7 linked regions of the Homo sapiens genome follow. The protein of the gene in region 1 purifies or fractionates together with the protein of each later gene. This does not show direct contact. Each region holds a gene or a part of one and is shown in the gene's direction. Other genes may lie near its edges. The genes, in order: SFXN4, TMEM131L, HP, TCN1, SERPINA3, BPIFB1 and PIGR.

Region 1 (3,500 bases):
GACATGTATAGCCAGGGGATGGTGGTAACCATTCAGTGCGACAGTTGACATCAGAGAGTGGGGGAGGTGACAGCACCATTGGGGGCAGCTGCTGGAGCATCTAGGAAGAGGAAGGCATAAATCTGAATGGCACTCAGGGCTATCCTAATGGATAGAGAGCCTAGGGCACCATGTGGCTTGAAATCAGGCATGCAGTCGAAGTCCAGTGCATGCTGGTGAGTGAGCTGGTGATTCCTACCTCTGGGGATAAACCTGAACAATGTTGAGATCATTACTTGATTACTTGATATCTGATTTTAGGAAAGTATAGAAAACTCGAGGCAACTATTGTGCACAAATGAAGATGTTTCCAGCCCTGCCTCGGCGGACCAAAGGGTATGTTTCACGTGCTCAGGTCTGGCTGGTTGCCCTCAGATGGTTCTGCCTGCATGGTCTGAAGTCAGGTGGAATTTGGCCATTAATCTCTGTCTCCGTCTCTTTTCTTTCTTTTTTCCTTCCCTTGGGAGCCACTGTTCTATTGGCTATTAATGCTGTCATTGTTATATACTGCCCAGAGGACCAGCTTTGCAAAACTGGGTTAGTTTTTTAAATGTAGTTAGAATTCTGTCCCATAAACCAGACAGCAAGTTTCCTCCTACACAGTGGATATTTGTGGGGATTCCCTGCAGCTGATTCCTGGAGCCCAGTGGCAAACCCCAGAATTCAGACAGGGCTCTGACGTCAGAATTCATTCTCCACTGCAGGCAGCGTTCCTGCCGATAGGCTCAAACGGACTGTTCCTTATCTACCTTGCAGTATGTGGGGCTTTCTGGAGCTCACAAACACCAGCTCCTCAAGACAGCCTATGGAGAGCTCACATATTTAACTTTTTCTAAGAATGTGCTGGGGACCCTGGGCTGACAGCTTGGCTCTGTTGCAAGTAACTTGACTGATGGCATGGTGTGTCATCAGCACACAGCCTGCTCTGCTCTGAGCCAGAGGCAAGCCGGATTCGGGGACTCATCTGAGGGATAAGTTAGGTGTTGGTATTCTCCAAGGGTAGAGACAGGACTTTTTAATGTTCTGGTCCATTTCTCTGTGTGGCTCGTCTCTTTGCTTGTCATTAGTTCATTTGTTTATTCATATGATCCATTTATTTTGATTTGTTCTGTCAATGTGGTAAATAACAGCTCTGGCCTTCACTCTCTGAAAGGTAGAACAAATGTGGTCCCAGAAATGAGACAGGCAAAGAAATTCTTTGCTGTTGAGCCACCTTTAAAAGCTTTTTTTTTTTTTTTGTTTTTTTTTGTTGTTGTTGTTGTTTTTTTAAGGCTGGGTGTGATGGCTTAACCCTGTAATTCCAATGGTTTGGGAGGATGACTTGATGCCAAGACTGCAAGACCAGCCTGGGCCGTATAGCAAGACCCCATCTCTACTAAAAATTAAACAACTAGTTGGGAATGGTGGCGTGAGCCTGTAGTTTCAGCTATTCAGGAGGGTGAGGTGGGAGGATCGTTTGAACCCAGTAGTTCGAGGCTGTTCTGCAGTGAGTGATGATTGTGCCACTATACCCCAGCCCTGGGTGACAGAGCAAGACCTTGTCTCTTAAAAAAAATTTAAAATGAAACAAAGCTATTCTTTTTTCTCCTTTAAGATACAAGAAGCTTGGAAGCGGAGTCTTGTAAGTTTCAGCCCCTTCCTAATTTTTAGTGTCCTATAATAACAAAACCAGACATCCAGCTAACCTTGCATCTCTCCTTTTGAAGGCAACAGTGCATCCCGACAGCAGCAACCTGATCCCCAAGCTTTTTCGACCTGCAGGTGAGTTGGTTCTAATTTTCAGAAGTGGGTTGGGAAGATGTAGTTTCTAACACTTAGAAAACTCTGCCTGCCGGATCACCTGGGGTCAGGAGTTCGAGACCAGCCTGGCCAACATGGTGAAACCCCGTCTCTACTAAAAATGTAAAAAATTAGTTGGGCATTGTGGTGGCACGTGCCTGTAGTCCCAGTTACTCAGGAGGCTGAGGCAGGAGAATTGCTTGAACTTGAACCCGGGAGCCGGAGGTTGCAGTGAGCTGAGATCATGCCATTGCGCTCCAGCCTGGGCAACAAGAGTGAAACTCCGTGTCCAAAAAAAAAAAAAAAAAGAAAAGAAAACTCTGCCTGCCTTGCTTTAATTATTTCTCCCCCAGCAGGATTTCTTTCTTTTTTTTTTTTTTTGAAACAGTGTCTTGCTCTGTCACCTAGGCTGGAGTTCAGTGGCACAATCTCGGCTCACTACAACCTCCGCCTCCCAGGTTCAAGTGATTTCTCCTGCCTCAGCCTCCTGAGTAGCTGGGATTACAGGTGCCTGCCACCATGCCCAGCTAATTTTTTTCCTTTGTGTATTTTTAGTAGAGACAGGGTTTCACTATGTTGGCCAGGCTGGTCTCGAACTCCTGACCTTCTGATCCGCCCACTTGGCCTCCCAAAGTGCTGGAATTACAGGCGTGAGCCACTGTGCCTGGCCATGTTATAGTAATTTTATGTACATACTTTATTATTATTGTCATTTTTAGAGACAGGGTCTCGCTCTGTTACCCAGGCTGGAGTACAGTAGCACCATAATAGCTCAAAGCAGCCTCCAACTCCCAGGCTCAGCTGATCCTTCTACCTCAGCCTCCTGAGTAGCTGGGACTACAGGGTCATGCCGCCACACCTGGCTTTAAATTTTTTATGGAGGTGGGGGTCTCGCTACCTCTACAAAATAGAGGCTGGTCTCGAACTCCTGGCCTCAACCCATCCTCCAGCCTCAGCCTACCAAAGTGCTGAGACCTTGACCCCCCACTTTATTAGAAAAACAAAGAATGAGTGGAAAAAGTCCTTTGAGGTCTGTGCCTTCTGGAAGCTGGGGAAGAGGTGTTCAGGTGGGTAGTCCCCTTCTGGCCCCCTCTGCCTGGGCAACTGTGATCACTGACACCTCCTCTCTTCTCTTCCTGCCAGCGTTCCTGCCTTTCATGGCACCCACGGTGAGCAAGCAGACATTTGCCGTTAGGAGACTAGGGGCTTGGGAAGATGGCCACTCTCCTCCTAACCTCAGCTGTGTCCCTCCAGCTCCGGACCCCTGTCACATGACTGCCTGATAGATGGTTGTGGATCCCCACTGATAACCCATGGCTGCTGTTCATACGTCCTTGTCCCCACTCCCTCCCCCTCCCCACACCCTCCCAGTCAGGCATCCGGGCCTCTGGAAGGCCCACAGCTTGGCAAGGTCATCCCTTTTCTGAACACCAAGTATGCGCAGAGCACGGTAGAAGCGGCCAGTGAGTTAGGATGAGCTCCCTGCACAAACCCCTGGCCACCAAGTCCTCCTCTGACACAGCCCCTCACCTGGGACCTGGCATTGTCCCTGTGAGGCTTTTCTCACCTTGGCCCTTGGGAGGTGCTTTTTGGTTTTTTGGGTTTTTTTTGTTTTTCGAGACAGAGTCTGGCTCTGTTGCCCAGGCTGGAGTGCACTGGCGCAATCTCAGCTCGCTGCAACC
Region 2 (3,500 bases), on another chromosome or scaffold:
GTAATACCCTGGGACCACAGTCAAGTGCTGAAATATAGGAACTGAGAGAAGAGGCACCCTGCTTTGGAGAGGTCAGCTAAGGCTTAGGGACAAGGGAGGCCTTAGAGATCTGCAGCAGCAAGTGTGTGCCTGGGGCCTAGCCCAGAGCCTCGCCTGGTAGACAGTTAAGTTCAGCATTTTCCCTCGGACATTTTAAATTGGAGCCCAGGTGCTTGCCGCAATGTGGTTGTAGGGGTAGGGCTGGGTGTGTCAGGGCCTGTGTGGGACAGTGCTGTATGCTGTTGAAGAGCTTGGTGTGCATCTGACCAGTTGGAGGGAGCCATAGTAGGTTCTTGAGCAGGGACTGAAGTGATGACATTGAGTGCTGGGTCCTTACTGTGTGATAAGGGTGATAAGGAGTGAATGATATGAGGAGACTGGTCTTTGCTGCACAGAGTGCGATGGTGCACCGGATGGTTGCAGGCAGCAGTCTGCAGGCAGAGAAGAAAGCTGCGTTTGTCTTCTAATACAGCCGGGGCTACTGATGGTGTGGGCTGCTGTGTTGGAAGAAAGGACAGGTAGGAACTGGGTTTCCCGTGAGTGGGTAGGTCTTTCTGGTAGGAGGTGAAGGGAGGAGAGCAGTGCAAGATGACTATAAGATTTGCCCAGGGGTGGCCGGGCACAGTGGCTCACGCCTGTAATCCCAGCACTTTGGGAGGCCGAGGCGGGTGGATCACAAGGTCAGGAGTTTGAGAACAGCCTGGCCAACACAGTGAAACCCTGTTTCTACTAAAAATACAAAAATTAGCCAGGTGTGGTGGCATGTGCCTATAGTCCCAGCTACTTGGGAGGCTGAGGCAGGAGAATTGCTTGAACCCAGGAGGCGGAGGTTGCAGTGAGCCGAGACCCTGCCATTGTACTCCAGCCTGGGTGACAGAGCGAGACTCTGTCTCAAAAACAAACGAACAAACAGAAACAACGGTTAACACATGTTCTTTTTCAATAGGGTGATTCTGAAGAGGGTCTGGAGGAGCCTTCTCAAGAACAGAGGTAAGGAAAAAATGGGGGTGGAAACCTGCATGCTGAATGTCCCTGCCCACTTTGGGTGCTCTCTGAAGTCTCAGTATATGTCCATGTTTATGTATTTAGTAGTATCTGTAATACACCTTTCTCTTTGGCATTTGTCGTATCTATACCTTCTAATACATTAATACGATTTTGTTTTAAAATAAGGTTGTTTAGAAAGCTGTTAGAAATAGCCCCTCCTTCGCCACTCACCAATTTCACTTTTTCCATGATGTGCTTGTGCCCTCCCTCTTGTTTATAAACATCTATTGAGTGCCAGGCACCGTGCTGGGTGCTGAACATGAAACACAAACAAGACCTCTGTTTCGTGTAGTGGGCAAGTAAGACTTTACTGTAAGTAAAATAATTATGCTTATGACAAGAGCTATCAAGAATTAGTTTCCTGTAGTAGAGAATAATGAGGTGGATGGGCTCCTTTTGGGAGGTGACATTCCAGCTGAAGCCTGGAGGAAACAGGAGCAGCCACACAGCAGCGGGAACAGTGCTTTGGTCAGAGGGAATGGAGGTGCAAAGGCCCTAAGGCTGGAAGCCCTGCCGGCAATCCAGGAACTTGGAGAAGGCCAGTGTGGTTTGTAGGATGGTGAGATAAGGTATGTAGTCCTTTAGAAGTCGCAGTAAGGAATTTGAGTTTTGTTTTTAAGTGTGGTGTGAATTGTTAAAGAATTTTAACCAGGGGACTGGAATACAGTGGTATGATCCTGGTTCACTGCAACCTCCGCCTCCTGGGTTCAAGCAATTCTCCTGCCTCAGCCTCTCAAGTAGCTGGGATTACAGGCGTGTGTCAACATGCCTGGCTAATTTTTGTATTTTTAGTAGAGACAGGGTTTCTCCATGCTAGCCAGGCTGGTCTCAAACTCCTGACCTCAAGTGATCCGCCCGACTTCGCCTCCCATAGTGCTGGGATTACAGACATGAGCCACCGCACTCGGTCCTGTGAATTCCATTTTTAAGAGAATACCATGGGGCAGTCTTGGTCACTTGTCAAACTGGGTCCCTTAGAGGTACACGAAGACACTCTAAGTGGTGTATAAGTGGGAGGATAACTTGCAAGGACTACGCTTCCAGACCCCCAGGGTGTAGGTATCTCCTAAAGCTGATCTGAGTTGTAAGTTACCATTTTCCACCTCTGCTTTCACAATCTCTTTTCTCCACGTTACAAAAGAAAGCTGTATCTTCCACCCAGCCCCAATCCTGCTGTTGGCTTCATCTTGGGCAAAGAGGCAATTTGAAATATTGGTGTTTGTTAGGAAAAAGTGATCCACTCTGATTGGATGACAAATTCTTTAGTAACTTTGGTGGTTTTCAGATCGTTCCTTTTAGTAAAATTGAAGGAGGACCCAATGAATTTGACAACTGATAGATCATTCAAGTTACTTTTAATGATGGCTCACTGTGTGATTTTTAGATGAAACACTGAGGTAGTTTAGAGAATATACGGATAGTGCTGTAATAAAGCTGTTTCAGTACTTACAAGCTTTTTCAGTACTTACATTTAAAAAAGTTAAAAAGGAAAGGATTAAGTTGATAAAAAACCTGTCTCATTCTAGTAGTGGGTAATGTTCACATCAACCAGTTGGGGGGAAAATAGCTCTGTTCATCTCATTAAAGGATGCATTTTCAATAAGATTTTACTTTCTGTGTTTAATTACCTATCAAAATTTGTAAAACTTGTTGGTTTGATCAATTGTATGCAGTCGGCCCTCTGTATCTGTGACTTCTGCATTCGTGGATTCAACAAACTGTGGATCGAAAATACAGAAAAAAAAAGTATCTGTACTGAATATGTACAGACTTTTTCTTGTCATTATTCCTTAATACAGTATAAAAACTATTTACATAGCATTCACATTGTATTAGGTATTATTAGTAACCTAGAGATGATTTAAAGTATACAGGAGGATGTGCATAGGTTATATGCAAATACTATATACCATTTTATATCAGGGACTTGAGCATCTTCAGAATTTGATATTCTTGAGACGTCCTGGAACCAATCTCTCAGGGATTCGACTGTACTAATACAAATTGTATTGATAACTTTTTTTGTTTTTGGAAACAGTGTCTCACTCTGTTGCCCAGGCTGGAGTGCAGTGGTGTGATCTCGGCCTACTGCAACCTCCCCCTCCTGGGTTCAAGTGATTCTCCTGCCTCAGCTTCCTGAGTAGCTGGGATGGCAGGTGCACACAATCACGCCCGGCTAATTTTTGTATTTTTAGTAGAGATGAGGTTTCACCATGTTGGCCAGGCTGGTCTTGAACTCCTAACCTCAGGTTATCCGCCGGCCTCAGCCTCTCAGAGTGCTGGTATTACAGGCATGAGCCACCACGCCTGGCCTGAATTGATAACTTAATTCAGAAGGAAAAAAATTAATATTTAGACCTATGGTCATAGGAAAAATGTTTTAAAAACCTGAAATTTCAATTTATATTTATAGT
Region 3 (4,102 bases), on another chromosome or scaffold:
CTGTCACCCAGGCTGGAGTGCAGTGGTGCGATCTAGGCTCACTGCAACCTCTGCCTCCCAGGTTCAAGCAATTCTCCTGCCTCAGCCTCCGAGTAGCTGGGATTAAAGCATGCGCCACCATGCCTGGCTAATTTTTGTATTTTTAGTAGAGATGGAATTTCACCACATTGGTCAGGCTGGTCTCAAACTCCTGACCTCATGATCCGCCCACCTCAGCCTCCCGAAGTGCTGGGATTACAGGCGTGAGCCACCACGCCTGGCCTGTCTTCATTTTATTAATACTGTCTTTTGATACACAAATGTTCATTCCGATGAAGCCCAATTTATCTAATTTTTCTTTGATTGCTGGTGATTTTGGTGTCATTATCTAAGAATCCATTGCCAAGTTTTACTTGGTTTTGATCTCTAGAAGACTGCCATCATACTGAAGGTAATCTTCTGAAACTTGCGGTTTTCTTTCAAAAATTATGTTTATAAGATGATCCATGTTCTTGCAGAGTTTATTCATTTTATGCTGTATAATATTCCATTATATCCACATACAATGCAGTATTGACCCTTCCTCCTGTTGATGGGCATTTGTCTTGTTTCTAGTTACTTTGCTATTATATCAGTGTCACCATGATTATCCAAAAGTAATTCTTTTGTACACTCTAATTTAAGAACAACTAACCCTTTTTAATGAATAAATCAACCTTGTATTGAGTTGCTACTAAGTTTCAGTTGACTAGTACCTGGGATACACACAGGTGCAGACATTTGACTGAGACATATTGATTTTTCTCATCTGCCTATTTAGGCTAATCACCAGACTATAAAACCATGAGAACCACTGCCATTGAGTATAGTCTGTGTCAGTCTACACTATAGCTTTAACTAGTTGTGTGATTTCTTGCAAAGAGCAATCAGAGAAGACACAATAAACACATTTACTGATTTCAGGCTGGAGAGCTTTTAAGCAATAGGGAGATGGCCACACACAAGGTGGAGAAAATTACTGTGAAAAGGAAGTACTTTCTTTAGAGCCCCACCTAAGCTAGGCTGCAGAAATGTCTACAATGGGTTTGAAAAAACTCAAAATGAGCCTTTCTGCAGTGTGAAAATCCTCCAAGATAAAGAGACAGATTGATGGTTCCTGCCGCCGCCCTGTCCTGCCCAGTTGCTGATTTCAGGAAATACTTTGGCAGGTTTGTGGGTCATAGAGTTGCCAGGTTTCTTGGGATTTGTAATAGAACATCACAAGAAAATCAAGTGTGAAGCAAGAGCTCAACTCTTAACAGGGGTATTGTTTGTGGTTTTGTTACTGGAAAAGATAGTGACCTTACCAGGGCCAAAGTTTGTAGACACAGGAATTACGAAATGGAGAAGGGGGAGAAGTGAGCTAGTGGCAGCATAAAAAGACCAGCAGATGCCCCACAGCACTGCTCTTCCAGAGGCAAGACCAACCAAGATGAGGTGGGTCCACAGCTTTCCCTCCTGCCTTTCCTCTGGTTCTTTATTTCAGTCTTTTTTGCATACATCGGTAGAGATGCAGAAATAGAACAAAGAAACGGGCAAATGGGCTAAATTATAGTGAACCAAAGGGCTTAGTGTGTTAAATCTTCTCCTTTTCTGCATCCATAGAAGACAGTGCTGCTGTCTTTCCCAGGAGATAAGATTTACTCTCAGGAGTGTCTTTTTCCTTCAGGTTACATTTTTGACTTTATAGGGTATGTCATCAGCTCCCGTGGTAGGCTTCCTGGCATCCTGAGTATATTTATTAGCAGATATTTTCCTCTTTAAAAATGTACAATAAGGAAGACTAATAGTAACACATTTGAATGACACAATTAATTGACTAGTACCTGGGATACACACTAATACCTGGGATACATCTAATTAAGGCACTTAGATCTTATAAAAATAAACACTTTTTGAAATGTTGAAATAATAAGACTAGAAACTTTTTTTTTTTTTGAGATGGAGTCTCGCTTTGTCACCAGGCTGCAGTGCAGTGGCATGATCTCGGCTCACTGCAACCTCCACCTCCCAGGTTCAAGTGATTCTCCTGCCTCAGCCTCCCAGGTAGCTGGGACTACAGGCGTGCGCCACTATGCCCACCTAATTTTTGTATTTTTAGTAGAGACGGGCTTTCACCATGTTGGCCAGGATGACCTCGATCTCTTGACCTCGTGATCTGCCTGCCTTGGCCTCCCAAAGTGCTGGGATTACAGGCATGAGCCACCGTGTCTGGCCTAGAAACTATTTTAATAGAAGCAAGTAGTGCCCGAATGGTTGGCATTTGTTAGTGAGATGGTGAACTGGCAGACGGCACCTGTGGGTCAATGCCCATGGCCACCGTCCTGCTTTTGGACACCAGTTCTCTTCCAGGTAACCTTCTGGCATTTTGGGGTTTCAGATACCATTTCCTAAAGGTGAATTATTATAAAATACTAGAAATACCCACGTGTTTAAAATTATATATTTAAGGAACCTTTTATTACGGAAAATATCAAGAAGTAGAGGAATAGCACAGTAAGCCCAAAGTTCCCATCTCTGAGTTATCTACATTTTATTACCACTATCTTTGCGGTGTCTGAGGGAGGTTTCTCTTTCCTGGAGGGCTCCTGTATTATTGCCAATGTACTTTCCTGAATGCAGCCAGAAACTGAGCCCACCCCTCCACCTATGTGCCTTTCTATCCCTCTCTGAAGCTTCTGCAGAATTCCCAGCAGGACAGGGCTTGCTGGAAGCTTGGTATGCTCAGAAGCTGCTAAAGTGTGTATGGGCAGGTGTGGGGGCAATTTCTTGGTCCTAGCACTTCCATATATCGACTTTCTTTTCTGGCTGCTAAGTGGGAGGAGTGTGTGTGTATGCATGTGTGTGTGTGTGTGTGTACATGCATGTGTGTGTGGATGCATGCATGTGCTGTGAAGCAGGGAGACTAGCTTTCCACTCCTCCTTGTCTTCTCTCTGCAGTGCCCTGGGAGCTGTCATTGCCCTCCTGCTCTGGGGACAGCTTTTTGCAGTGGACTCAGGCAATGATGTCACGGATATCGCAGGTCAGTCTTTGGTTGGGTAGGAGTGTGCATCCCACTCTGACCCTCTCGGGTCTGCACTCTCTCTGAGAACACCCAATTCCCCCTTCTTATCTCGACCTCTGGGCTTTCAGGACCATAAAGAACATTGGGGTTCCTGCCAGAAATGAGGGGAGCTTGCCTTTCCATTGGCTTCTATTCGGGGTGGAAGGAGATTGATGTGCAGAGCAGCTCCCGCTCATCTGACTTTTCACGGTTCACTGGGAACAATTTCCAAATAGCAAACTCTCTGGCTTCTCTCTCTTTGCAGATGACGGCTGCCCGAAGCCCCCCGAGATTGCACATGGCTATGTGGAGCACTCGGTTCGCTACCAGTGTAAGAACTACTACAAACTGCGCACAGAAGGAGATGGTAAGATGTGGACAACTGTCTCCATGCCCTACATACAACCCCCTTCTCTGACATTTCCATGATGGGTGGTGCTGAGGTGATTCGCCAGAAAGTTCGTTGCTCTCCTTGGAGCCAGGAGATTTAGATTCTAATAAGCGTTTTGTCGCCAGTAGCCATGGCCCTTTGGGCAGACTAACTTTTGTCAGCCTCAAGTTTTCTGTTTTGTTAAGGGGAGGCGATGCCATGCAGCCTACCTCATGTAAATCTCAGAGTCACATTTACATCTCCAGCAGATGTGGGAAAAGAAGGAATGCTGATGATGATGTCACCCTCACCTAGTGAGTCTTGCTGTCCTGGCACTGCTCTAAGGGCTTTATACTTATTTGCTCACTTAGTCCTCACAGTATCCCTCTGAACAGAGTTTATTGTTTTCACTTTGCTGATAAGGAAACTGAGGCACAGACAGGTTGAGTATCTTGCCCAAATTCAGGCAGCCTGTAAGAGGCAGAGTCAGGATTTGAACCCTGAGCCCTCCCTGTACTGCTTGGCTGTGACCGCCATGACCACAGTGTGTTCTGCTGGGCTTAACTGGTGTCCAGGCACTTGGCTTCCAGCACAGCACTCTTTCCCTTCCTCCTTCTCATATTCTCTCTCCTTTCTCCCTTCCTGTCTGCCTCCTTTCTTCTTCTTCTTT
Region 4 (4,300 bases), on another chromosome or scaffold:
TCCTCCTTGGTTAGGAAACTCTCATGGAATCTATCTTAGGAGAAAAATCATAGTTTGGAAACCACTATGCCAAAGATCCCCTCATGTGCTGGGTTCTCCAATACTGCCTGCTTCAATTTCAGACTTACAACTTTTACTTCCGTTTTTAAATTTTTTTATTTCAATTTTTGTAGGTACATAGTAGGTGTATATATTTATGGGGCTCATGAAATGTTTTGATACAGGCATGCAATGCGTAATAATCACATCATAGAGAAGGGGGTATTCATCCTGTCAAGCATTTATCCTTTACGTTACAAACAATCCAGTTATACTATTAGTTATTTAAAATGTACAATTAAATTATTATTGACTATAGTCACCCTGTTATGCTACCAATAGTAGGTCTTATTCATTCTTTCCAATATTTTGTACCCATTAACCCTCCGCATCTCCTTCCCACCACTAGCCTTCCCAGCCCCCAGTAACCATCTTTTCATTCTCTATCTCTATGAATTCAATTGTTTTGATTTTTAGATCCCACAAATAAGTGAGAACATGCAATGTATGTCTTTCTGTGCCTGGCTTATTTCACTTAACATAATTATCTCCAGTTCCATCCATTTTGTCACAACTGACAGGATTTCATTCTTTTATATGGCTGAATAGTACTCCATTGTGTATATGTACATTTGCTGTGTTCATTTATCTGTTGATAGACACTTAGCTTGCTTCCAAATCTTGGTTATTGTAAACAGTGCTGCAACAAACATGGGAGTGCAGATATCTCTTCAATATACTGGTCTTCTTTCTTTTGGGTATATAGCCAGCAGTGGGATTGCTGGATCATATGGTAGCTCTATGTTTAGTTTTTTGAGGAAGCTCCAAACTGTTCTCCATAGTGATTGTACTAATTTACATTCCCACCAACAGTGTACAAGGCTTCCCTTTTCTCTACATCCGTGCCAGCATTTGTTATTGCCTGTGTTTTGAATAAAGCCATTTTTAGCTGAGATGAGAGGATATCTCATTGTAGCTTTGATTTCCATTTATCTGATGATCAATGATGTTAAGCACCTTTTCAAGCACTTTTTCATATGCCTGCTTCCCATTTGGATGTCTTCTTTTACTTCCATTTTTATATGTTGTATGTGTTTGCATGATCAAATCTACTTTATCAGGAAACATAAAACATAAAGTGAAACGGAAAAAAAAGGAAAGATTATAGGAAACAGTCATTTGCCTAATATATCTTCACTGCACGGAAGGCAAATAATAGATATGAAACCCGAAGGTTTAGGACAGGAGACAAAGGAAAGTTATTGCCTTATTCTCCCTAACCACATCCTTCAAGTCTTCTTCCTTATTTATTACATCACATGGACAAATACACTTGACCACACCTCCTGACATTGCTCAATATTTGCTTGAGTGAAAAGAGGCTGAGGCAACCTGAAGGAGGAGCTCTCATTACCTTCTGCCCATCACTTAATAAATAGCCAGCCAATTCATCAACATTCTGGTACACTGTTGGAGAGATGAGACAGTCACACCAGCTGCCCCTAGTGGGGCTCTTACTGTTTTCTTTTATTCCAAGCCAACTATGCGAGATTTGTGGTGAGTAAACTTTGAGCTAAAATTACTCTAGAGTGATAGTCTACTGAAAACTGTTGACAAGAGACTCTATGTAGAGTTACCTGAGAAAAGATCCCATTCCAGTTTCGTATGTGGTTGGACTCCATGAATGATGAAAAGGGTGGCAGGAGATGGTGAGGAAAGTCTCACAATGCATGTTGTTGTAAGAGGAATTATAGATTGTGTATTCACTTGCCTAACTGCTCTTTCTATGCTCAGATCCTCTCTAGCACAGCATCCCTACCAAGTAACTCCCTATTCATGTGACTTTTCAATGACAGAAAATTTATGCTCCCAGAAACTTTTCTAGATCATGGAAAGTTATCTTTTGGTCTTGATATGCAATCTTTTTTCCCTGAAATTCAATGCATGATTTTTGGGTTAACCCCTTGTAACTACATAGAAAAAAATAATAATCTCTTTCAAATAGTGATGACTGCTGTCTTGTCATGAGTGAGTTTAGATGTTCCAAGTTGCATGTCCACCTTCCTTCAACTCTTTCCCAGGACACATGGGATAAAGTTCCATCATCTCTTGCATGGGTGTTGACCCCAGAGATTGTGTGGTTCTGTAAAAGAACTTTAAAGTAAGAGAAGGGAAAACTAAATTCAGGTTTAGTTTGATCCCTTAGTTATTGAATGACCCAACATTTCTGAATTTCTTTAGCTTCATTCATAAATAAAGGATAATGAGGGGAGACTATTGAAGCAAATTATCTCATGAAGTCTGGTGCAGTTCTCAAGTGCATGAATTCTCTTTTGTGAGACTTTACTCTGAAATTGAGCTTCAAACCAGTCCAAAGATTACTAGGTGGTACTATCTGTGCTCTCTAACCAGTAAGAAGAGAACACCACAGAAGACAGGCTTGTATACATACAGGCTAAAGCATAGACTCTTCTGACTCTGATTTTTCTTCTTGGCTTGACATTTCCCCTGTTGGATCCTAAGAATAGGGAATGGCTATGTAGGTTTTAGCTTTCAATTCATTTTAAATAATAATGATAATAATTAAATTTATCTTTGAGACTCAAGGAAGCTGATTTGAGTTGTTGATCAGGAACTAAAAAGTCTGTTTCAGGGCCAGAAAATCTGCTGAGCTGGATGGTTCCACAAAATCTCAGAGAACTGACTCACAATTGTTCCATTGTGTCTGCAACAAACCATGACCTTTCTACAATCACTCTATTCAGATCTTCTTGACTCATTCTTTTAAAGTAAAGAAAACTGGGCAAGAGAAATTACATTTCCTTGATTCTCAAGTATAGTGATAAAAACTCCAGTTGAGCTGGAAATAATAGTATGTGCAGCATTTTACAGTTTATTCGGTGGTTTCTTGTCCAATATCTGTAAGGTAAGTGTTAACAGCCACAATTTTTAAATGAGAAAACTAAGAGTAAAACAAGTTACATAAGTTATTATCCACAGTCATAAGTTAAGGAGCACAAAATGTGGCCAAAATCTGAATCCAAACCTCATGTTCTTCTCACTCTCCCACTAATCCATTAGATAATCTGGAGATATGTAGGATTTGGGGCTACTCCTCAAGATTATGGAAAAATACATTGACAAAGTGTCCTGTGTTTAAATAAATAGTAAATCTTTTTATTCTCCTCTATTTCCTTGGGAGCTATGGATTTTCCTACTTCCACAGTATAATGTGACTTCCCTCCATCTCTGGAATTGGGGCATATTGTAGGCTAAAACTGGAGAGTTTTTTACAGGCTGCATAATGCTAAATAATGATCTCGATGCCCAGCCAGCTGGGTAATCAGACAATGAAGTTTTGGGGTCAATCACCAGTATAACACAGAATTATTACCTGCATTTTCTCAACATTAACCCAGTTGATTTAGAAGATGGAGAAGGAAAGAACTGAATCCAGGAAGTAGAAAGTCCTGCTTACTGAGAGTCAGAAGACATGTAGTCTAGTTTCAGCTCAGCCTCCAATTATGGAAGTTTCTTTAAGGACAATCTATCTAAGCTTCATATACAAAATTAGGGAATGATGCTAGATTTCCCAGGCAGGAGTCTGCCAGTACACAATGATAAGTCTGCACCAGTTGTTAAAATATTAAAACATTTTCATGTTGGTTGTTAAAGGAGTAATGTCTGGCATGGGGGTGGGTTCAAGACCCACCTTTGTATTATTCCACCAACACAGTCTGCAGCCACTGGATTGGTCTAGGTCTGTGCCATATCTGTTACTAAATATTTTTATATAACCCCTGCTGCAAGTCTTACTATTTTCTGAGTATGTGTTTCTTATTTCCTTCCTTCTCTGCCACAGAGGTAAGTGAAGAAAACTACATCCGCCTAAAACCTCTGTTGAATACAATGATCCAGTCAAACTATAACAGGGGAACCAGCGCTGTCAATGTTGTGTTGTCCCTCAAACTTGTTGGAATCCAGATCCAAACCCTGATGCAAAAGATGATCCAACAAATCAAATACAATGTGAAAAGCAGATGTAAGTTGCTGTATATTCTGGAAGATTTAGAAAAAAATCTACCTATTTAAAGATTATCTGCAACTAATCCTAAAAAATTATGCATCCAAAGTATCCCTGCTACATCCCTTCTAATGGTACCAAACTTGAGGTAACAGAAACATGCCCAAAATACAATCCCATGCCATTCACCCTAGAGCTAGGTCTTGCTTCTTTTGGTCTTAAAAACCACTTTTCTTC
Region 5 (3,500 bases), on another chromosome or scaffold:
AACCACTCCAGGGCGCGTAGGAGCTAGAGCTCCCTCCTTGCAGGGGTGCTGCTAGACTAGGCCAGGAAGTCCCTCTGTCTGGATGCACCTGGGGCTCCTGCCCTGCACATGTGGGAGGAGCACATTCCAGCCAGGGGCCTTGGTGTCTGGAGGTGGCCAGGTGGGGCTGGGGCCATCTTCACAGGGCAAGATAATCCCCAAGGAGCCTGGCCACTTCCAAGATTCTATGATTCTACTCTGCTATCATCTTTAATTATTTTAAAAAATATGTCACTGACACATAACAAATGAGGGCAGAAATGGCATTGTTCCCATCTGGGGAAGAGCCTCAAGGGTGGGCAGTATACAAAACATGACCCTTTGCCAGATTCTAACTGGTCCAGTGCCCAATCCCATTGATAGAAACTCAACCAATGCAAACCTCAGCCTGCAAGCTCCGAAGGGGCAGAGTGCAAGCCGGTAGCTTTTGCCTCCTGGAGCCCACAGTCCAGATGGGGACAAAAAAAGAGATAGGGACACAAAGAGTGATCACTGAGCCAGAGGGTGGAAAGGTGCTTAGGAGACATGAGCTGCTTGGAGGCAGAGTCCTGCTTGGAAGCTGTTGGTTGATTCCTGGGCAAGCCACTTCCCCTCCTGGGCCTGGGTTTTCATCTGTAAATGAAGGCGTGGATCCAGATCTCCCTCTAAGACTACTCCACGCCTCACGTGCCATTTGTTCTCTGAGTTTCCCATGTTCTCGCCTCCTACTACCTAGCCCTATGCTAGGACTCTCCCCTCCAGGACACAGTAGCCAGCCTAGCTTTCCCCTCCCCACCTGCCTCTAACAATGGGAAACAGGCAGGTGGTAAACAGGTGGGCAGTGGAGGTGGCCCCATGTCTCCAGCCTCCCCTGGAAGCTCCCACCCCCCTCATTGTTCAGTGCTCTGGTCCTCCTGGAGTGGAGACCTGCAGGGCCCCTCCCCTTCCTCTGTTGACCTCTCCTCACTCTCCAGGTGCCAGTTTTGCTCCCTGCCTCAGCCTGGTTTACATACAGTGTATGTGACGGGGCTTGGTCACTGCTGGGGCAGCCCTGTGGAAGGTGGAGGGGACCGAGCATGCATGAGCTTCAGGCTGAGACAGTCCCAGCTCAGAACCCTGGAGTGCTTGTTCCCTCCCTTTCTGCTCTTCCTCTTCCATTGCACCCACTGGACCCAAGAGCATGCAAGGATTGACTCACCCAGTGATGCTAGAACTATGTATTCAGCTGAAAGTAAGGGGGTGGGGGCATCCAACCAGGGGCAGAAGATGGGAATTCAAGAAAGGAAGGTTTCCCCTAGAAAACGGTTTTCGTCTTTTCTCTTAAATCCAGATAGAATAAGAAGCGAAGGCCGTTACAGCAGAGAGAAAGTTGAGTCAAGCAGAGATCAGATACTAAAGACACTAGACTAACCAGACATTCGGGCCCTCAGTTGAACAGCTGAGGATGTCAGAAGATGTTAAGGAGGCAAAATTGGAAAACTTGGTGGCTGGCAGACAGAAATGGGGGGAGATGGGAGCAGATGTGAGAAGATTTAAAGGCTTGTAGAGCTTGGGTGGTGATTTCATCCACCAAACCTATCTCTCTCCCCATTCTGGCATACAAGGCAGCAGTCAGGGTCCCCAGAGGCAGCCCATCTTTCTGGCAGGGACCCATGCTGGAGATCTGGCCAGCTGAAAGGCCCCAAAGGAGCTCGGTGCCCTGGGTAATATGGGAAGGTGCTCCATGGCACTGCCCTCACATGGAGGCCACAGAAGCCCCTGAATGGCTGCTGCAATTGGTAACGGGGACACCTGTTCAACTGAAATATCTCCTACCCTGAGATGGGTCCTTTCTCCAAGGGATCTTTACAATTACATTTGTCCCCAGTCATTCCATGTTGGGAGGCTGCAGGGACCAGAGAAGCTGAGATGGTCTTTGGGGAGGGGAAAGGAAAGATGGACAGTTATTTTGGTCCTAGAAAGCCCAAAGGTGGGGAAGTGTCAAGAAGGAAGATGAGGGCACAAGAGAATGTAGGGCCACCCAGAAGCTGGCTCTCATTGCAATTACAGAAAGAAAAACCAAAATAAAGAAAGAAAGGAAAGAAGCTCCCATTTATTGAGCAGCTACTCTCACCAGCCATTCACATGCAATACCTCGTTTAATTCTCGCAGCGGCTCTGAAAGGTGGATGGTGGTATTGCCATTTGTTAGGTAGGAGACATGCCGTCCAGAAAAGCAAATAATTAAACATTCAAAGTTGACCTGGGCCCATTTGAAAATTCCTTTTGCTCCCTCATTTTAACCCCTAAAGTAAAGCCGTTTGTGACTTTATGAGCTTTTACCAAGCATCTCCTAAAACCAAGAATGGAGGTGAAAGATTGTGGAGCCCACAACCTAGAGAAAGGATTGACAATTTTTTTTCCATAAAGGGCCTAGTAGTATGTATTTTAGGCTGTGTGGTCCACATGAGGGCAGATTCTTCTTTTTGACTTCCTCCTCTGCATCTTCTTCATCTTCTCTTTCCTCTTCATTTTTTTTACAACCTTTGAAAAATATAAGCACCATTCTTAGCTTTAGGTACACACAAAAATAAGCTATGGCTGTATTGGCTTACAGGCTATAGTTTCCTGACCCCTGTTCTAGGGGAGGAAAATAATTGTACCCAACTAAATGCGTGCGAATCATGGGCCTATGTCATGATTCCCAAAGAATGAGTTTCATGGAATTTTCAACATTTTAAATATTTTACTCCATTCTTCCCTTGCTTGCATAGTTTCTGATGAGAAGTCTGCTGTCATTTTCATCCTTATTCCTTTTTAGATAAGGTGGAGTTTTCCTCCCTCTGCCTCTACCTCTACCTCTTTCAAGATTTTCTCTTTCTCTTTACTATGGTAAATAGGCCTTTAGTGAGAGGAGTTATGTCAGCCTGGCTAGGAGTCAGGCTGCATTTCAGGTTTGTGATAGCTAGAGGTACCAGAGGCAGTTTCATGGAATTTTACCTTTGCAACACTGAGAGCCTAGGCAGCCTCAGAGTCAGAACACCCACAGTTGAATCCTCAGCCTGACAGACACTGAATCCAGGGCAAATCTTAGCTGAATATTCATGGTCTGTAGAGGTGGACATGAGCTAGATATGAGCTAAGGACCATAGCCAGCTCATGGCTTTTGTGATGTCCAACACCGCTATCCTCTAAGATGTCACAAGTGTCCCTAGGCTTTTATTCCCATGGTCTCTCCTGGCTCTGAGTTCTATCTTCCATTAAGGTTCTTCCTGTTCCTCCCCTCATTCACACTGATTGGCATCTCTTCTGTCTGCCCTCACCAACTCACATACAGAACCCAGTCTCTTTCCTCTTATTTCCACCCAAAGCCCTCCCACAAGCCACTGTTATATGTTCACATCCCTGTAATACCAGTGAGTAATAATTGCTAATGAGACATTTTTCCTTTTATGGAACAAAGGCTGTCCCATTTCTCCTCAGGCACCAGCCTCCCACATGTTG
Region 6 (3,500 bases), on another chromosome or scaffold:
GTCGTCATCGTCATCATTATCATTCCCCACAGCAAGCCTAGACTGTCATCTGTTAAATGGGGAGTGGAGGCAAGTACTATCTCATTTAACAGATGAGGCAGGTGAGGCCCAGAGAGGTCAAACCCTTTGCCAAGGTCCCAGAGCCAGGAACTGAGATTCAGACCCCAGAGCCTCCCTGCATAACCCCTAATTCCACACTCGGATCCTCTTGAGAACAATGGGGCCTGGGCTTCTCTTGTTGCAGGAAGCCAGCTCGGAAGCTCAGTTTTACACCAAAGGTGACCAACTTATACTCAACTTGAATAACATCAGGTAAACACACAAATCATCATGAAGATTCTGCTGATGGAAATGAGTCCCGCCTGGTAACCATGGGTTTCTTTAAACACCGACTTTGTGGCTGTCAGGTGAAGGCGGCTCCAGGGTAGGCAGGGAGGTCCTTCCGGATGCTCCTGCTGACAAGGACTGCATGTGAGGGAATGGGGAGGAAAATGAAGTAGGCCTTGCAGCAGCCACGGCACAGGCAAACCCTAGCCGCGGCCAGCCCACTCTGGACACCTCCCAGGCCGTGGCAGTGACAGTCACCCGGCACAGAAGTGCAGGGCTCCAGCTGCCTCCTGCACCCTGCCTGTTCTCCCTCCCCGCCACTTTCCTGTGGCCCCAGAGTGAGTGCAGGGGCTGCCAGCTGGAGCCTCTGGGGACAAGTCAGGCCCAGGGCTCTTTTGATCAGCCCACATAGGGCTGGGCTGTTTAATATAAATGAGTTGTGCACATATCAAATCAGACTATCTGGCTGCCCTGTGCCCACAATCCTACATAGCAACAAACTGTCGAGCCAGGAATTGGGGCGCCCTTTGAAGGAGCTTGGGCCTCCTTGTCCACCACAGCCCTGACTCCTGAGGTTGATTTTTCTGCTCACTGGACTGCTATTTGTTTTCTGTGCCCCCTCTATGCCCCCCACCCCACCCCTGCCATTAGAATGCAAGCTCCACGACGCAAGGGCTTCATGTGGTTCACTGGAGCCCGCACTGTGCCTGGCACATAATAGGTGCTCAATAAATCGCTGTTGAATGAGTGGATGGTGAATGAGTGGGACTTCAGGGGCCGCTCTCACAGGCATCTTCCATTGCAGCTCTGATCGGATCCAGCTGATGAACTCTGGGATTGGCTGGTTCCAAGTAAGTGTTAACAGGTGGTGCCTGAGGGCACAGGGGGTGGCCTGGAATGGTCCACTCTCAAAACAGATATTGCCCAGGATTTGCTTCAAACAAGGTCCCCACAGAAGCACCATGGGGGGCTGGCCGGTCTCCACCAAAGTCCAACTTCCCTCGAGTGTTTACAGAGAAGCCACCACGTGTCAGACACAGCTGAGAACACACACACGCACACACAAATACACTCACAGATACACACTTTCTTTCAGTGAAGTTTTGATCCTGAATTAGAACACAAGTGCCCTTGACTCACAATCTCATTCTGCACACGTAGACGCGCCTCAGTGCCCCTAGACAGCCCTTTCCTGCTGGGATTCAGACCGAACCCCAATACCTCAGTCTGGCGTGTTTTCTCTGGTTTTTATGATTTGTTTTTCACTATTTTTGACTTTTTTTTTTTTTTTTTTTGAGATGGAGTCTCGCTCTGTCGCCCAGGCTGGAGAGCAGTGGTGTGATCTTGGCTCACTGCAACCTCCATCTCCCGGGTTCAAGCAATTCTCCTGCCTCAGCCTCCTGAGTAGCTGGGACTACAGGCGCCCACCACCACGCCCGGCTAATTTTTTGTACTTTTAGTAGAGACAGGGTTTCACCATGTTAGCCAAGATGGTCTCGATCTCCTGACCTCATGATCTGCCCGCCTTGGCCTCCCAAAGTGCTGGGATTACAGGCATGAGCCACCATGCCCGGTGACTAATATTTTAAAACACGGAGAGTTCCACATGCAAATCAGGACTTCTGGCTTCCCTCCAGAAGTCAGAAGTTCAGGCAATGCAGGGCAAAATTCCCTCAGGGCAAATTCAGCTGCAACAGAGTGGTGGGGCCCCTGAGGATGGGGCATCCTCCAATGCACCCCAATCCCCCCATCTACCAGGCCCCAGGGGCGGCTGAGTTCATGCCCCAACCCAGCCCATCTGGTCCCTGGGAGCCCCCACAGCTCTGATCAGCAGGGGACCTGGAATTCCTACATCTCCACCAGCCACCTCACCCATGGGGAGGAGCCACACCCACGAAGAATGATGGGGGGGAACTTCAGATGCTCAACCAGGGTGACAGTGCCCCTTCTCTCTCTCACAGCCTGATGTTCTGAAAAACATCATCACTGAGATCATCCACTCCATCCTGCTGCCGAACCAGAATGGTGCATACCTCTGCCATCTGTGCCCCCTCTCTCCCCAGGGCTTGGCTTTACTTCCCCTGCCCTCATCTCCATGAATGGGGCCCCTTTCATTCATCTCCCAGCCATCCCTCAGAGCCTACTTCAAAATCTGCCTCCTCCCAAGAACCTTCTCAGCCCAATTCCTTTGCTAGTGCCAGAGGCTGGGCTCGTAAAGATGAACCAAGCAGTGGGCCAGACTTGCAGGGCTGGAAGGAGACAGAGGCATAAGCAGACAATGAGAGCAATGACAGAGGTGTAAGAGACAACTGGAGGCGCCTCAGCAGACCCTGTTCCCCCTCTTGCTAGTGCCTGGCCTTGGTCAAGCTGCACAATCCTTCTGAGCCTCAGTTTCTCCATCTGTAAAATGGGGACGTAGAAGTACCTTCTTCAGAGGCACAAATCAGGAGGTGCCTGGCACAGTCAGTGCCCAACACTCTAATTCAGCCCCAGGTTGAATGAGGGGTGGGAAGGGTTTGTAACCTATACAGTTCCACCTTTTTAATTTCTTTATTTTATTAGACTGGAAAAATCTCAAAGTATAGAAACCTCTGCTGGGGATAATGGGAGCCCCTGATGGTTCTTGAGCAAGAGCGTAAGAGAATGTGAGGACTGCATTTTGTGAGGGGCCAGAAGCCAGTGCCAGAGGCAAAGGGAGGGTAGACGAGGCTGGGTCAATGCTGGGGCCAGAGAACAGGCGAGCAGAGGCAGAGGGGGCTGTCTGATCAGGCCTGCCAGGCCGGGGCTCCCCTTCAGGAACCCTGAGCCTGCCCCTGGCTGCCCAGTCTCACCCCAGGCCCATCAGTTTCTGACCACATTTGTTATTTCAGGCAAATTAAGATCTGGGGTCCCAGTGTCATTGGTGAAGGCCTTGGGATTCGAGGCAGCTGAGTCCTCACTGACCAAGGTGAGTGGGTGTGGCCCTAAACATCCTGCCCCAGGGAGGGCACAGCCACTGAGAGCCCTGGCTGGGAGGTGGGGCCTGCACTCCAACCCCAGCCTACAGGTGACCCTGGGCAAGTCCCTTCCCCTCTCAGGGCCTCACCTCCTCATCTGCAAGTGAGAAGGTTGGCTGTGCTGAGGATGGAACCCTCCTAGCCTGGGGTCAGTACACTTTTTCCACCCCCTTGTCA
Region 7 (3,500 bases), on another chromosome or scaffold:
GGGTGGATTGCTTGAGGTCAGTAGCTCAAGACCAGCCTGGCCAACATGGAGAAACCTTGTCTCTACTAAATAGAAACCAAAATTAGCTAGCATGCACCTGTAGTCCCAACTACTTGGGAGGCTGAGGCATGAGAATCGCTTGAACCTGGGAAGCGGAGGTTGCAGTGAGCCGAGATCGTGCCACTGCACACCAGCCTGGGCGACAGAGAGAGACTTTGTCTCAAAACAATAAAAATATATAAAATAAAAAACAAGGGTTATCATAAATTTGTCATTCCCTTGTCCTTGAAATGGTTATCATTAATGAATAACAATTCCAATTTAATCATGATTAAAACAGTCACTTTATTTAATCTCAGCAATTTTCCAGCTGTGATATATGATAAATTATCAACACAGGGCCTACGTGTCAGGTAGAAAACCACATCTACTCATAGTGGGTTATCTGGAACAGGCTTTACCTCCCAAGGGCCTCAGAAAGCCTCTCTCTTCTGTTCCCACAGCCATCTCCACGAAGAGTCCCATATTTGGTCCCGAGGAGGTGAATAGTGTGGAAGGTAACTCAGTGTCCATCACGTGCTACTACCCACCCACCTCTGTCAACCGGCACACCCGGAAGTACTGGTGCCGGCAGGGAGCTAGAGGTGGCTGCATAACCCTCATCTCCTCGGAGGGCTACGTCTCCAGCAAATATGCAGGCAGGGCTAACCTCACCAACTTCCCGGAGAACGGCACATTTGTGGTGAACATTGCCCAGCTGAGCCAGGATGACTCCGGGCGCTACAAGTGTGGCCTGGGCATCAATAGCCGAGGCCTGTCCTTTGATGTCAGCCTGGAGGTCAGCCAGGGTAAGGATCCAAGCTCCTTGGGCTTCTGGGGGAAAGTTAGAGGGAATTCTCTAAGGTGCATGGAGGGCTTGAGGAGGAACTTCCTGACAAGGATGTGTAGCCGGGTTGGGGGTCAGAAGGCACCCCTTTCCCCAGGCAAAGACTTCTTTAACAGGAGAAGGAGACAGATAGGGCCTACTTGGGGGTGATGAGTGAACCCTTCTAGGACTTGGTGGCCTATAACATTTTAGGCTTTCTGGAGACCCCAGCTTAGAAGGGTATCAGAAGGACAAGTTTTCTGGTGTTTGCTACAGGTAGAAAGGGAAATCTGACATCAGGCTAAGGAGATAGAAAAGGTAGGGAGAGATTTACAGGGATCCTTAAATTCCTATCATTAATGCACCTTTCCATCAAGGTTTGGGCCGCCAAAAGGCTTCTTGTAAAATGCATATTTTTTTTTTAACCTGGGAACCCTTAGTCTTTTGGTATTATCAGGGTAAATTAGATTATTAGATCTTGACCAAAGACCAAGATCCTGAAAGGATGGGTTGCTAACAAGCCTATTCTAGTTGGAGAAAGAGAAAAAAAGAAAAGCTCTTTCTGACAAGGGTTTAACAATGAGGCTGTTTTAGATAGTCAAGGGCAACTCAAAAGAGAGGTCTACGGAGAAAAGAAATTCAGGGGGACTCCCAAAGACATGTCTTGCTCCTTTGGAATATGCATACTATTGTCTGTGGACTAAATGAGGAGGTCATTTAGGTGGGGATCAAGATTCAAAACCACAGAATCTTTAGAGGTGAAGAGGGCTTAGAGTTCACCCTAACCGGACACTTAGAAGAACATGCTGATGACGGGTATGCAGCCTCTGATTAAGCACTTTAGCAGAAACTCACTGCTCCCTGAGACAGCCCATTTCACATTTAGACTCTTGTAATTTTTAGAAACTTCTATTGTATGCGTTGAAATCCATCACCCTGCATTTACATTCATTCTGTTCATTTCAGCACACATTAATTTGGCCACCTACTACCCAGAGGCATTGTGCTTGTCACAGCAGAGGGGTCAAACATGAGAAAAACATGTTCCAGCCTTCAAGGAACTTCCAGTCCATGGAGAACATAATTACCCATACACCAGATTGGATGTAATAAGTGATGCAGATGTATCAAGAAAGCACAGGGCAGGGAGAGATTAGTGTTAGCTTGGGAAAGGTTTCATGGAGAAGACCGCTGTCAAGCTGGGCCTTCCGACAGCATTCCTCTGGGAAGGAGGGCATTCCAGGTTATAAGTCCACCCACACCCTAACTAGGAATAGCAAATAGTCCTATGTTGCAAGAAAGTAGAATCGTAACTTGCCTGCCCCCTACCTTGCACCCCTCATCCTGCAGGTCCTGGGCTCCTAAATGACACTAAAGTCTACACAGTGGACCTGGGCAGAACGGTGACCATCAACTGCCCTTTCAAGACTGAGAATGCTCAAAAGAGGAAGTCCTTGTACAAGCAGATAGGCCTGTACCCTGTGCTGGTCATCGACTCCAGTGGTTATGTAAATCCCAACTATACAGGAAGAATACGCCTTGATATTCAGGGTACTGGCCAGTTACTGTTCAGCGTTGTCATCAACCAACTCAGGCTCAGCGATGCTGGGCAGTATCTCTGCCAGGCTGGGGATGATTCCAATAGTAATAAGAAGAATGCTGACCTCCAAGTGCTAAAGCCCGAGCCCGAGCTGGTTTATGAAGACCTGAGGGGCTCAGTGACCTTCCACTGTGCCCTGGGCCCTGAGGTGGCAAACGTGGCCAAATTTCTGTGCCGACAGAGCAGTGGGGAAAACTGTGACGTGGTCGTCAACACCCTGGGGAAGAGGGCCCCAGCCTTTGAGGGCAGGATCCTGCTCAACCCCCAGGACAAGGATGGCTCATTCAGTGTGGTGATCACAGGCCTGAGGAAGGAGGATGCAGGGCGCTACCTGTGTGGAGCCCATTCGGATGGTCAGCTGCAGGAAGGCTCGCCTATCCAGGCCTGGCAACTCTTCGTCAATGAGGGTAAGACCCTAGAGAGGGAGGGGGAGTAGGTGGGGCAGTCTCGCAGGTGAGAGCCAAGCTCAGCTCCCTCTGAGTGTATTCATCAATAGTCATCAATCAGCCAACAGCATCCACTCAATGACCAGCCCCGAACTGGAGGCTGCGTGGGCTGCTGCACAGGACAGCAAGAAAAAGCAACCTCTGCCTGATGGCAGCTCCTAATTACTCTTCTGTTATCAAAGTCATTTTGATGGCTGTCCCTGCTTAACAAGCAAGAGGTGAGTAAAGCTCTTGATTGAGGCAGGACTTATAGACTGTGTTTCAGGGCTGTGGCAGGCTCTGCAGGGGTCCTCTGTCCCCTCCCCTGGCCCCTGAACAAGATGGGTGCCTCATCCCTCACATTCAGATGGAAAAAGGATTGGCTTATCTTGGTCTCAATGCGTTCCCAGGAGTGCCCCAGCCTCTAAATGTTTCACTGTCACATTTCGTAGGGTTATTTGTGAATTTCAGCACCATCTGGCCCACTCAGCCCTACTCCAGTGAGCCATCAGCATGGTGAAAGAATTAAATCCCAGCTCCTTCTCATCCCAGAGCACCCTGCATAGAGTTGCCCTCGTGAGAAGCAGCAAACCAGTACTTGCAGTTCCAA

Evidence for each region.
Region 2: the proteins of SFXN4 (region 1) and TMEM131L purify together in Homo sapiens (affinity purification with mass spectrometry; one large-scale study listed by BioGRID and IntAct). This does not show direct contact.
Region 3: the proteins of SFXN4 (region 1) and HP purify together in Homo sapiens (affinity purification with mass spectrometry; one large-scale study listed by BioGRID and IntAct). This does not show direct contact.
Region 4: the proteins of SFXN4 (region 1) and TCN1 purify together in Homo sapiens (affinity purification with mass spectrometry; one large-scale study listed by BioGRID and IntAct). This does not show direct contact.
Region 5: the proteins of SFXN4 (region 1) and SERPINA3 purify together in Homo sapiens (affinity purification with mass spectrometry; one large-scale study listed by BioGRID and IntAct). This does not show direct contact.
Region 6: the proteins of SFXN4 (region 1) and BPIFB1 purify together in Homo sapiens (affinity purification with mass spectrometry; one large-scale study listed by BioGRID and IntAct). This does not show direct contact.
Region 7: the proteins of SFXN4 (region 1) and PIGR purify together in Homo sapiens (affinity purification with mass spectrometry; one large-scale study listed by BioGRID and IntAct). This does not show direct contact.

Annotation. Positions count from the first base shown.
Region 1 is NC_000010.11:119,159,215-119,162,714, reverse strand, and holds part of SFXN4 (sideroflexin-4), read left to right. Parts: intron 1-300; coding exon 301-375; intron 376-1,633; coding exon 1,634-1,660; exon of another isoform or gene 1,661-1,745; coding exon 1,746-1,800; intron 1,801-2,961; coding exon 2,962-2,987; intron 2,988-3,500. UniProt on the Homo sapiens protein: Mitochondrial amino-acid transporter. Does not act as a serine transporter: not able to mediate transport of serine into mitochondria.
Region 2 is NC_000004.12:153,472,860-153,476,359, forward strand, and holds part of TMEM131L (transmembrane protein 131-like isoform 1 precursor), read left to right. Parts: intron 1-985; coding exon 986-1,029; intron 1,030-3,500.
Region 3 is NC_000016.10:72,053,203-72,057,304, forward strand, and holds the start of HP (haptoglobin isoform 1 preproprotein), read left to right. Parts: upstream 1-1,302; 5' UTR 1,303-1,450; coding exon 1,451-1,455; intron 1,456-2,958; coding exon 2,959-3,041; intron 3,042-3,327; coding exon 3,328-3,429; intron 3,430-4,102. UniProt on the Homo sapiens protein: As a result of hemolysis, hemoglobin is found to accumulate in the kidney and is secreted in the urine. Haptoglobin captures, and combines with free plasma hemoglobin to allow hepatic recycling of heme iron and to prevent kidney damage.
Region 4 is NC_000011.10:59,863,688-59,867,987, reverse strand, and holds the start of TCN1 (transcobalamin-1 precursor), read left to right. Parts: upstream 1-1,500; 5' UTR 1,501-1,517; coding exon 1,518-1,596; intron 1,597-3,901; coding exon 3,902-4,081; intron 4,082-4,300. UniProt on the Homo sapiens protein: Binds vitamin B12 with femtomolar affinity and protects it from the acidic environment of the stomach.
Region 5 is NC_000014.9:94,615,391-94,618,890, forward strand, and holds part of SERPINA3 (alpha-1-antichymotrypsin precursor), read left to right. Parts: intron 1-3,500. UniProt on the Homo sapiens protein: Although its physiological function is unclear, it can inhibit neutrophil cathepsin G and mast cell chymase, both of which can convert angiotensin-1 to the active angiotensin-2.
Region 6 is NC_000020.11:33,303,714-33,307,213, forward strand, and holds part of BPIFB1 (BPI fold-containing family B member 1 precursor), read left to right. Parts: intron 1-244; coding exon 245-312; intron 313-1,132; coding exon 1,133-1,178; intron 1,179-2,288; coding exon 2,289-2,352; intron 2,353-3,197; coding exon 3,198-3,274; intron 3,275-3,500. UniProt on the Homo sapiens protein: May play a role in innate immunity in mouth, nose and lungs. Binds bacterial lipopolysaccharide (LPS) and modulates the cellular responses to LPS.
Region 7 is NC_000001.11:206,936,467-206,939,966, reverse strand, and holds part of PIGR (polymeric immunoglobulin receptor precursor), read left to right. Parts: intron 1-503; coding exon 504-848; intron 849-2,215; coding exon 2,216-2,872; intron 2,873-3,500.